Regions from separate parts of the Homo sapiens genome. Here region 1 is linked to region 2. The links come from fine-mapping of genetic effects on gene expression. A gene starts in region 2. The other region holds a variant in brackets. All regions are shown on one strand. Distances are from middle to middle. Region 1 has its middle 49 kb from the start of TMEM242. Region 2 holds the start of TMEM242 (transmembrane protein 242).

Region 1 (5,371 bases), 50 kb before region 2:
AGCGGAGCGGTGGGAAGTGGGGACCCTGAGTCAGAAGCCTGGCCTTTGTCACCCACTAGCACTCACTTAGCCTCTCCGCGATGACACAAAATGCCAACAACAGTCAGAGCTTGCCAGCTGCCCAATTGCTCTGCAAGGCTCAAAGCGCTCTTATTACCAAAAGTGAGACTAAAATGCAGATGGTACATCCAACTCAAGAGAAGCTACCCTGCCTAGAGGGTTCTGTATGCTTTGTCTCAAGTTTGAGGCAGTTTAGAGACAGATGAGCAGATAGACTTGCAGAGGGGCTGTGGAGAGACTGCACAAGGGTAGGCAGGTGAGGTAGCAGCCCCCCGCAGACCCAGTCACCTCCCTTGGCCTCTTGGTGCCTGAAATGCTGCCTTCTGATATGCTGTTCATCTGAAGACCTTTCCATGTTCCAGAGTTTCTGCTGAAAATGCAAATATCCCTGGGAGATGTGGTGCCTTACGCCCTCTAGCCTGGGGAAGCAGCTGGCCCTGGCCACCCGCACAGAGCCGGGATGTTTGGGCTCACTCTTCCTGCCTTGTGTGGCCCCTGCATATATTTTTAGCTGATTTTTCAACTTTGCAAACATCCAGGGAGGAAAGAGCAGCCAGAAAACACAGTTCTCAATATTCAGATGGAAAGAAAACTCATTTGTAGCTAATCCTAATGGTTCTCAATTCAAAAAATATGGGCTGGTACCAAGAAGATATTCAAAGATCTCACCATTTCTTGAAGCTGAGTCTTCCCTGGCCTCCATCACATATCCATGACAGTGATAGGGGGTGTGACAGGCACCAGGATTTTTAAAACTCCCCAGATGACTCTGATGGGCAGCCATGCTTGAGAACCCGTGGCCTGGTCCGCTGTTAGGGCGAGAGAAACCCAGGGCTGGTGTTCCCCTCCTCCACCTGCTCGCTGTGTGGTCATAGGTCAGTTCCCCGCAGTCTGAGTGCCCAGCGCTGTCACCTGGGAAATAGGAGGGGCAACTTCCTTCCCAGGGTAGATGTATCAGAGATAATGTGTGTGAGAGTGCCCGAGGCATGGAGTTGGTGGGGGGGGGGGGCTGGCCAAAGAGAGATGTCATTATTTGTGATTTTACTGAGGAAGAAACTGAGGCACTGAAGCTGTGCATAAACCTTGGTCTGGCTCCCTGAAAACGAGACAGTTGGAGTGGAAAATGTCAAAGGTTCCTTTGAGCTCTAGCAATGTGGAGTTCTGCAGTCAGAGGGTTGAAATGCTGGGACATCTTGAATTGTTTTGAAAGGAAAGACTCATAAACGAGGCACATAGAGCCTTAGGAAACAACCTGAATCCATGCACAGTGAAACAAAACGAAACAGAGCCTCAGCTACTGAATTCATCTCCTCCCCTGACGCCCCGTTGCCCAGGGCCTCTCATTTCCACAGACTGCAGTTGCAACCTCTTGGCCCTTCTTGGTCGCCAGTCGTTTCAGGTCCTGGGCTAATGGACGTGGCCTGGGAGTGATCAGCCAGGGCCATTACCCCTTGGACGGTGCTGTAGGCAGACCTAGGCTTCGGGACTCCTGGGCTCCTGGACCCCTGGAAGAGTGTCGAGAAACATCTGGACAGGATTTCTCAATCTGGGCACTACCGACATTTTCAGCAGTGAATTCTTTTTTCGTGGGGACCTGTGCTGTGCATGGCAGAATGCTTAGCAGCATCCTGGCCTCTACCCACGAGGTGCCAGTAGCACCCTCTTAGTGTCTCTAGGCAATACCAGAGACGTCCCCTGGGGGAAGAGAGGCAAAACTCCACCCACCAACCCCCTCCCCCCAGCCTCTCATTGAGAACTGCTGATCTGGAGGCACCCTAGTTGTCCGGAGGCGGAGGGAGGAATGGGGCTCCTTGGGGTCAATATGAATTTGTTTTGTATTCCTTGTATTTAAATCCACACAAGAAAGAGCCACTCTACAAAGGGCAGAGTTGTTTCAACTGCAGATGGACTCTTCCGGGACTAGAGGAAAGGATGGGATTTTCTTCTTCGAGGTGCTCTTTAAAAGGACACCCTGAAGCCCGGCAGCTGCAGCCAGGGATGAGACCTCACCAACCAAGGCGACGTAGGTAACAGGGCCCATGGGCCCCCAGGAGGCTCACAGGGAGGGCCCTCCCCTGGCCAGGCCTCGGGTGGGCTGGGTTTGCCGGCTATGCCCCGCCCACACTCGCCCTCCCAGCGGGCCCAGCTCCTATACCCTGCTGGGTGCGTCTTCACTGTGGTTCACAGAGAGACGTTCTCACTGCCTTGCTCTGTGGAAAAGCAGATTGCCGAGGTGGATGGGAGGGATCCCTATTTTGGAAAAATAACATATCACCGTACACACACCCACACGCAGAGGGGAAAATGTGGCAGCAGACACCAAAATATTCCTATAGTTATTGATGGAAGCTGGGATTTCAGGTGCCTTTTTTGCTTATGTTTTCTCATTTTTTGACCTTGAACATGTAGTTACTTATAACAAGAAAAAGTCATTCGAGAAAGTAAAGAAAGTAGACAGAAAATGGCACCTTAAAACCCAAACCGCCAGAAACACCACTTAGATCTCAAAAAGGCACTAGGAAAAGCCCACTTCTGGTTTTTGGGTTTTGGCAGCCACCATGCAGAGGGCGGCCCCTGGGTGCTGAGAGTTCCGGGGTCGGGAGTGGGATACAGGTGGGTAAATGAGGGGCTCCGAGAGGGTGCAGCTGCGGGCGCTGAGGACTGAACTCTCCTGGGAGCACGCGCGGGGGACAGGGAACGGCGGCCACGCCCGGGGACCGACGCTGCAGCCGGGAGGAGGCTCAGTCTCTGCGCCTGGGGGCGTCCAGGGAGATGCCAGGTGGGCGCGGCCAGACGCGGGACCTGGGGACCACGGCACCCGCAGCCACGCCTTCAGGACGCGTGGGCGGGACGGG[C/T]TCCGTGGGCTTCTGATGAGGACGGTCGGGGAGATGTCGCCTGCGCGTTTCCGGGAGCCTCCAGTGGCCCCGGTTCCAGGGGACCAGACAGAAAACAAAAGAGCAAAAGGCAGCCAAGGCCTCCAGCTAGGGGTCATCCCCGCAGCCCCGGTCCCGGACGGGGCGGGAGGCCGCTGTGGGGACGCGCCGCCGGGCCTCGCTGTCAGGTCGCCCGCGCCCCGCTCCGCCCGCCCCGTACAGGCGGCGACAGCCCCGCCTAGGCCCGCGCCTCGGCCGCCCTCTGCTGGGCGAAGCGAGCACCACGGCCGAGCGGCGGCCCCGGGAGCGCCGCGGGGACTGCAGAGCGCGGGGAAGCGGCGGCAGCGGAGGCTCGGCCTGGAAGGCAGGGGCCTTGGGGGCGTCCGGGGAGAGGGCCGGGGACATCTGTCCAGCGTGGGCCGTGCGCGGTGCCGAGCGCGCGGGGAGGGCCGAGGAGCTAGACGCGGACCCAGCTCCTCTAGGAGCCGGGAGGGATGGGAGGGACGGAGGGTAAACGGGCAGTGCCGGCCGAAGCCCGGTGGGACTCGGCGGCAGACAGACAGGCGGCTTCCGAGGGAGGACCCGGGGCCGGGCGCGGGCGGCGGGAGGCGAGGCCCTGGAGGCCTGGCGCTTCTCTGCACCGCGAAGACCCGGAGGCTTCAAGCAACAGACGCGGTTCTGGAGGCCGGAAGTCCAGAGTCAAGGTCCCCGAAGGCTGGGGGAGAGAATCTGTTCCATGCCTTTCTCTTGGCCTCTGGGGTACAGGGTCCTCAGTGTTCGGGGCTTGTCTCCCGTCACTCCAGTCTCTGCCTCTGTGGCCACATGGCCCTGTGTCCCTGTGTCTGTCTTTTCTCCTTTTACAAGGACAACAGTGGTCTTGGAGTAGAGCCCACTCTCATCAAATTTAGCTTCATTTTGGACGGGCGCTGTGGCTCACGCCTGCAATCCCAACACTTTGGGAGGCCAAGAAGGGCGAATCACCTGAGGTCAGGAGTTCGAGACCAGCCTGGCCAACATGGTGAAACCCCATCTCTACCCAAAATGCAAAAATTAGCCAGGGGTGGTGGCGGGCGCTTGTAATCCCAGCTACTCAGGAGGCTGAGACAGGAGAATCGCTTGAACCTGGGAGGCGGAGGTTTCAGTGAGCCGAGATCGCGCCACTGCACTCCTGCCTGAGCGACCAAGTGAGACTCCGTTTAAAACAAAACAAAACAAAAAAAACCTCCTGTAATCCCGGCACTTTGGGAGTCCAAGGCAGGCGGATCACCTGAGGTCAGGAGTTTGTGACTAGCCTAGCCAACATGATGAAACCCCATCTCTACTAAAAGTACGAAAAATTAGGCTGGTGGCGGGTGCCTGTAATCCCAGTCACTCAGGAGGCTGAGACAGGAGAATCGCTTGAACCTAGGAGGCGGAGATTGCAGTGAGCTGAGATCGCGCCACTGTACTCCAGCCTGGGTGATAGAGTGAGACAGCGTCCCCCTCTCAAAATAAATAAATAAAAATAAAATAAATAAAGTGTGTGTGTATACATACATAGCTTCATTTTAACTTGCTGAAAATGGAAAGGCCTGATTTTCAAAGAAGGCTTCAACACTGAAATCTTCAACACCAGGGGTTTGGACTTTAACATACCTTTTGTGGGGACACAGTTCCACATACAGCAGGCCTGTTCCAGGTGGGCGTGCAAAGTCCACAGGGCTTCACTCCCAAGGCAGAGAGAACCTTGAAAGTTGTCATGATCTCACCTCACCGGAGTGGCCCTAGAAGGCAAGAGCCCAGCCCTGAGTCCCAGCAAGGAGGATTCCAAGCACTTCCACTCCCCAGGGAGGGAGGGGGCCTGGGGACTGCTTGGGGTTTTAGATCAACCCATGTATTGTAGGCAACGATTATTTTATTCTCAAAAAACAAACATGCCACAAATATCCCTCCTTCACTTTCTTTAGTTAGAAGAGCAAGCCATGTTCACTGAGGGAAAATGGGGAAAGTAGATTATAAAGGTTTAAAATTCCAGTGCCCCATGATGGCCGCACACGAAAAGGTGCATCTGTCTACCTAAGTGGGTTGGATGTCACTGTCTGCAGTGGAATAATGCCACATGCCAACCTTTCTGGAACTATGACTTTTGCCGTCACTTTTTGAGTTTAGTTTCCTAGACTCATCAATAGGGCTGTTCTCTGAAAATATGACCTGCAGTTAGGACTCGGTGCCTCTATAAATGGCAGGTGCTTTGCTCATGTGGCTCAGAAGATGTGGAGAGTCTGGGCCTGTCTTGAGGAGGTGAGCTTGGGGAGGGTGCCCCTTGGCCACAGGCGCCACGCTCTGGCAGGACCAGGGGATGTGACCTTCTAAGGAGACACGACCCTGGTAAATAAGCAAGATAGCTGCCGGAAGAATAAGGCGGAAAGTGTCCAGAAAGGATGGGGGTGGGGAAGAGA
Region 2 (5,371 bases):
TTAGACCAAGGTATCAGCAGTTTTACTCTCCATTGCCTCTGTACCATTAGTACAAGCATCTTAGTATCATTATGAAAATAGTTCTGACTTCATGGACCCAAGGATCAAGGATCAGCAGGGTTCTGTGGACTGCAGTTTGAAAACCACTGTTAGACCCCGAAGAGCATCTGTGATGATCAAATCTCAGAATAACAAAATAGGATGGAAAGTTGTGATATGTGTACGTGCGCTCTTCAGCCCCAGAGAATCCCTAGTTTTCATCAGATTATTAAAAAGATCAGTGAGCCAAGGATTAACATAACTTAGGCTTAGAAATCAACCAAAACTCTACTGTTAAGGCACTACTCTGATTTCCACCACAAAATATATTTCTGCTCTGAAAACATTCTATAACATAGAGAGAAAATGACCCACAAGGTCCATAGCAGTGATTTAGGAAGCTCCATATAAGCTTAGAGCATTCAGAGGGGATCCAAGCACACTTTAAACATGGTCTCTTGCCATTATGGTATCGATAAGGCTTAAGTATGATTATTAAAGATAAATGTAAGTGGAAAGGAAACTTGACTTTTTATGATGTTTTACGTAACACTTTTCCTCCATAGCACACATCAAATTGTAATTACACAGTTATTTGTGTGAATATTTATTTATTTATTTTTGAGACAGAGTCTCGCTCTGTCACCCAGGTTGAAGTGCAGTGGTGTTATCTGGGCTCACTACAACCTCAGCCTCCTGGGTTCAAGTGATTCTCCTGCCTCAGCCTCCCGAGTAGCTAGGACTACAGGAGTGCCACACCACACCTGGCTCATTTTTGTATTTTTAGTAGAGATGGGTTTTCGCCATGTTGGCCAGGCTGGTCTCAAACTCCTGACCTCAGGTGATCTGCCCCTCTCGGCTTCCCAAAGTGCTGGGATTACAGGCATGAACCACGATGCCTGGCCCAAATTTAGATTCAAAGTCATGTTGTGAATAGGAAATGTACCAGATAAGCTTTCAAAGTCTTGTTCCGCTAAAATTTAAGAAAGCACATAAGTACATCCTTCTAAATGAAAATAAAGACTTGGTTAATTTGTACATTTCTAGAATCCATGAGCGTATATAAATTCACATCTTAAAGCAATGTGAAAGACCATCAATATTTTATTTTTTCTACGCAAAAGCTGCCATATATTGTAAACAATAACAATGCTATGAATGGATTTCAGTGTCACCAACCTTATTGAACCATTCAGGGCTTTTCTTTTTAGCCAATGATAATGTTGTAATAAATCCAGCTAGCATTCCCGCTGCAGCAACGGTACCAAGGAAAATTCCACCTGCCAAGAGTTTCGGGGAGGAGGGGGGATATTAAAAAAAATTAAATAAAAAGAGGTTAAAAAGATGTACAAAAGTAAGTTTAAGATACTATTCGAGTTACAATCAAAATCACTTTTGAAATTCAAGAAACCATGGCTAAGCAGCTCTTGCTAACAGTAAATGACAGCGGCTGAGAAACACGCGTGACCGCACGACCTCTGGTTCCTTGGGTCATTCCGAATTATTATTCCCGAGCGCAGAGAAAAGGTTCAGCTTCCCTTCCCCTCTCCCCTGGGACCACAGCGTGAAGTTTCTCACGGGGAGGAGAAGAGACGATGGCAATCAGAAAAGGCAAGGCTCTAGAACAATTGCAGAGGTGACGGGGAAATATGGCACGCCCGGGAGAATAGCTCGCGGGATCTGCCCCCCGCCCCGCCCAAGGGGAGACTCCACCCAGTAAGCGACCTACCCTCCCTGGGCCGCCAGACTCCGCGGGCTAAACTCAGGGGCAAGCACAAGCTAAGGGCTCTCAGAGCGGGATGTGTGTGGGAATGCCCGCTCCAGAGCAAGCCAGGGTCCGGGGTTAACTCACCCCGACGCCCGCACCTCACCACAGCACATCTTACCTTTAACCAGGAAAAGCCGGTCATTCGTGGACCCCGGAGCCTCCAGCCCAGAGGCCGGCTGCCCAGTTGCAGCGCCCGCTGTCTCCATGTTTAGGTCGCCTCTAGTGCGTCCGTCCCCAACTGGGCCCGGGTGGAAGCGAGAACCAGGCGGAGGAGAAAGGTTCCGCTACCGCCTCCTCCTGTGCAATCTGAAGAAGGGTCCGGAGTGCGGCCGCTGTCCCCAAACCCTCCTCCCGCGCCGGGGCCGGGAAGACGTGCTGTGCCCAGCCCCAGGGGCGATGCCCTCCAAGGCCGTCTCTTAGGGAGGATCTTTTGATTTCTCCAAGGAGATCATTGCTGGACTTAAGTGATTACTTTGGCTGTTTGAAAGAACGCTCAGCCCCGACTGTAGGAGGCAGTGAGGGTCGCAGATTGCGCCAAGATTCCAGGCCCCGCCTGTGAGACCCTGGAGCTCATTTTCCTGATCAAGCTTACATTGTGTCCAACGATTTGGCCAGCGCTAACACTCCACGATTCTAAAACGCAAGCCTAGGTCTTCTGTCTGTACTTTTCTAGGTAACTTCCCAACAGTGTTGAGGAATAAGTGACAGGCTTTCTCCCTGGAGGAGAGCCAGCCACCCGGTTCTGCGGTGACGGGTACCTCCGCCGCGGTGTGAGTGCTCGGCCTCCGTCGGGAAGTGGAACACTCACAGGATGACCGAATGAAAGTACCACCCCCGAAAGGAGAGCGACGCCCGCTGGAAGCGCTTGCAGAGCTGCCGGCAACGTTGACCGCTAGCAAGCTTGGTCTTCCGCTGGGAGGCTGGTTTGCCCATTCTGTAAATGGCCGTGGAGAGGAGGAGGCTAGTGGTGATAGAAAATCTTTTCAGCCTCTCAGAGAACAATGACATCTTGTAAAATAAGGCGGTCTCTCTGCTATTTGTCCTGCCCCCCATCACCGGAGGGCATGAGTTTCCTGAGGATGGAGATGGGACTCTATGTTCAGTTTATATCCCCCAGCTTTCAGATATTAACTGGTTACCAACATCAAATGCATGTTGGATGAATGAGTAAATGAATGCATCCATTTTTGCGTCAGTGAAGTGCAGTTAATAGCTCAAACCTGGGCTCGGGTCCTAAACCGCTTCTCAGGTGTGTGAACTTGGGGTAACTTAGCCCCTCTATAGCTCAGTTTCCTCACCTGTAAAATTTAAAAACTGGTAGTAGGCCAGGCGCGGTGGTTCACGCCTGTAATCCCAGCACTTTGGGAGGCTGAGGCAGGTGGAGATCAGAAGTTCGAGATCAGCCTGGCCAACATGGTGAAACCCCGTTTCTACTAAAAATACAAAAATTAGCGGAGTCTAATGATGCGGGACTGTAATCCCAGCTACTCGGGAGGCTGAGGCAGGAGAATGGCTTGAACCTGGGAGGGAGAGGTTGCAGTGAGCCGAGATCGAGCCGTTGCACTCCAGCCTGGATGACAAGAGTGAAACTCTGCCATCCACCCCATCCCGCCCCCCCCACACACAAAAACTGATAGTACCTAACTCATAGGATTACTGTGAGAATTAAATGAAGCAACATCTATAAAGAAGTTAGCACAGTGCCTGGCACATATAAATATTCAATACATGTTAGCTCTAACTATTACCACCTTTGATTCCAGTAGCTATTTTGCAGCATTGCCTATGGGGATTTTTAAAAATGATGGATTATCAAGGTCTATCTACCACGGGAGATTAGAGCTCTGAAGGCCCGCGGGTGGCAGGGCAGAATGTAAAAGCTCCGTGGGGTTTCTGATGATAAAAAACTACTGCTCTGTTCAAATTTTTGTGTGGATGAGATCACACAGAATGTATGTGACCTTTGGATTTCCTGGAAACACGTCAGTATCTGAAAGGGCTTTTAAGCTGGTAAATGCTGTGCTAATTTGTTGAAGGACCTATCCTTTTTCCTTCCCCTCATACATAACAGTAACCATAGCTGCTAACATGTATTGAGTGCTTTCTATATATCTGACATTGCACTAAGTGCTTCAAGTACATTATCTCATTTATTCCTCTCCATAAACTCAGAAAGACTAACTTGCTCAAGCTCACACAGCTGTTAAGTGGCAGAGACAGGGCTTAAAAGCAGGTCCTTCCTTATCCACTGTGCCAGTCGTCCTCAAGTGTGAACTTGAATATTGGAATCACCTGGAAGGCTTATTGCACTCAGCTTGCTGGGCCCCATTCCCAGAGTCTGTGACTCAGTGGGGGCTGAGAACGTGTATGTCTAAGTTCCCAGGTGATGCTGTTGCCACGGATTCCACTTCGAGAACATCTTCTGTGTGCCTTCCTCTTATGGATTACACCTCTTAAAATCCACACCATACACTTTAGCACTTGGAAATCTGTTTTCCCAAGACTGCTTAGGGAGAAAAAGTGCAGATTCCTCCACTCTCTTCTTTGCTGTCCCCTTAGAAAACGACAGAAACATTTTAAGGATTAAGCTGGGCACAGTGGCTCAAACCTGTAATCCTAGTGCTTTGGGAGGTCGAGGCAGGCAGATCACTTGAGGTCAGGAGTTTGAGACCAGCCTGGCTAACATGGCGAAACCCCATCTCTACTAAAAATATAAAAATTAGCTGGGTGTGGTGGCGGCGCCTGTAATTTCAGCTACTTGGGAGGCTGAGGCAGGAGAATCGCTTCAACCCAGGAGGCAGAGGTTGCAGTGAGCCAAGATCATGCCACTGCACTCCAGCCTGGGTGACAGAGCAAGACTCCGTCTCAAGATGATGATGATGATGATGATAATAATAATAATAATAATTTAAGGTTTATATCACTGCTTACTATAAGGAACAGAAGGGAGATAATAGATCTTGTAATCTAGGGAAATTACAGAGTCCTGCATTCCAGAGCTGGTCTCCATTGAAAGTAACTGCACATCCTAGGAAACTGGTGTCTGCTTTGTTTTGGATGTTGCAGCTCACAAACCTCTATCTTCTTTCTAAATCCCCAAAGTAAAAGGCAATCTTCCTTTTTTCTACTTGAAAGCTTGTTTTCCCAATATACACAGGACTGAAAAGGCAATTGACACAAACCAATGGTTTACACTTCAGCCTCAAAATTTGCATTTTGAGGATCTTTGTGGGATACATACCAAGGAGAGGAGGAGGTGCGAGCTCCTTGGTCAAGGCCTGTTTGTGGAGACTACTACAGCCCCATTTCTCACTAGCCCCCAGCACCTGCCCTGTGACTTGCTTGGTGCCAGATCCTGGGAGATGGTGTTTCCAGAGCCTCAGAAGCCTGCCACACACTGGGACGGGAAGTCCCTGGCCCTGGGATAAGACCAAATTCCAGGCATCCCAAGTTGGAATGCTGAAAGAAAGCATTTTTTAAAGACAATGTTTCCCAAGGTCTCATATCTCTACAGGACACCCAGTTGGGTACTTTGGGTACAATTTGATTAATTGCACTGCTCTA

The links. PIP is the estimated chance that this variant, and not a neighbour inherited with it, causes the effect.
Region 1: its variant is fine-mapped to the expression of TMEM242 in whole blood (TOPMed, PIP above 0.99).

What each region holds. Positions count from the first base shown.
Region 1 is chr6:157,271,679-157,277,049 of GRCh38, forward strand. No RefSeq gene overlaps it. Among named protein-coding and RNA genes, the nearest start is that of TMEM242, 49 kb to the right of the region's middle. RefSeq lists enhancers at 1,619-2,451, 2,452-3,283 and silencers at 2,078-2,237, 2,668-2,757, 2,958-3,517. The variant C/T (reference allele first, on the strand shown) is at 2,916.
Region 2 is chr6:157,321,487-157,326,857 of GRCh38, forward strand. TMEM242 (transmembrane protein 242) reads right to left here and starts at 2,033. Exons shown (of 4, transcript NM_018452.6): 1 at 1,926-2,033; 2 at 1,219-1,319. The coding sequence starts at 2,013. It overlaps TMEM242-DT (TMEM242 divergent transcript), which reads left to right and starts at 2,148. Exons shown (of 1, transcript NR_187268.1): 1 at 2,148-2,991. LOC105378076 (a long non-coding RNA gene) reads left to right here and starts at 4,745. Exons shown (of 3, transcript XR_943165.2): 1 at 4,745-5,371. RefSeq lists enhancers at 1,796-2,135, 2,316-2,745.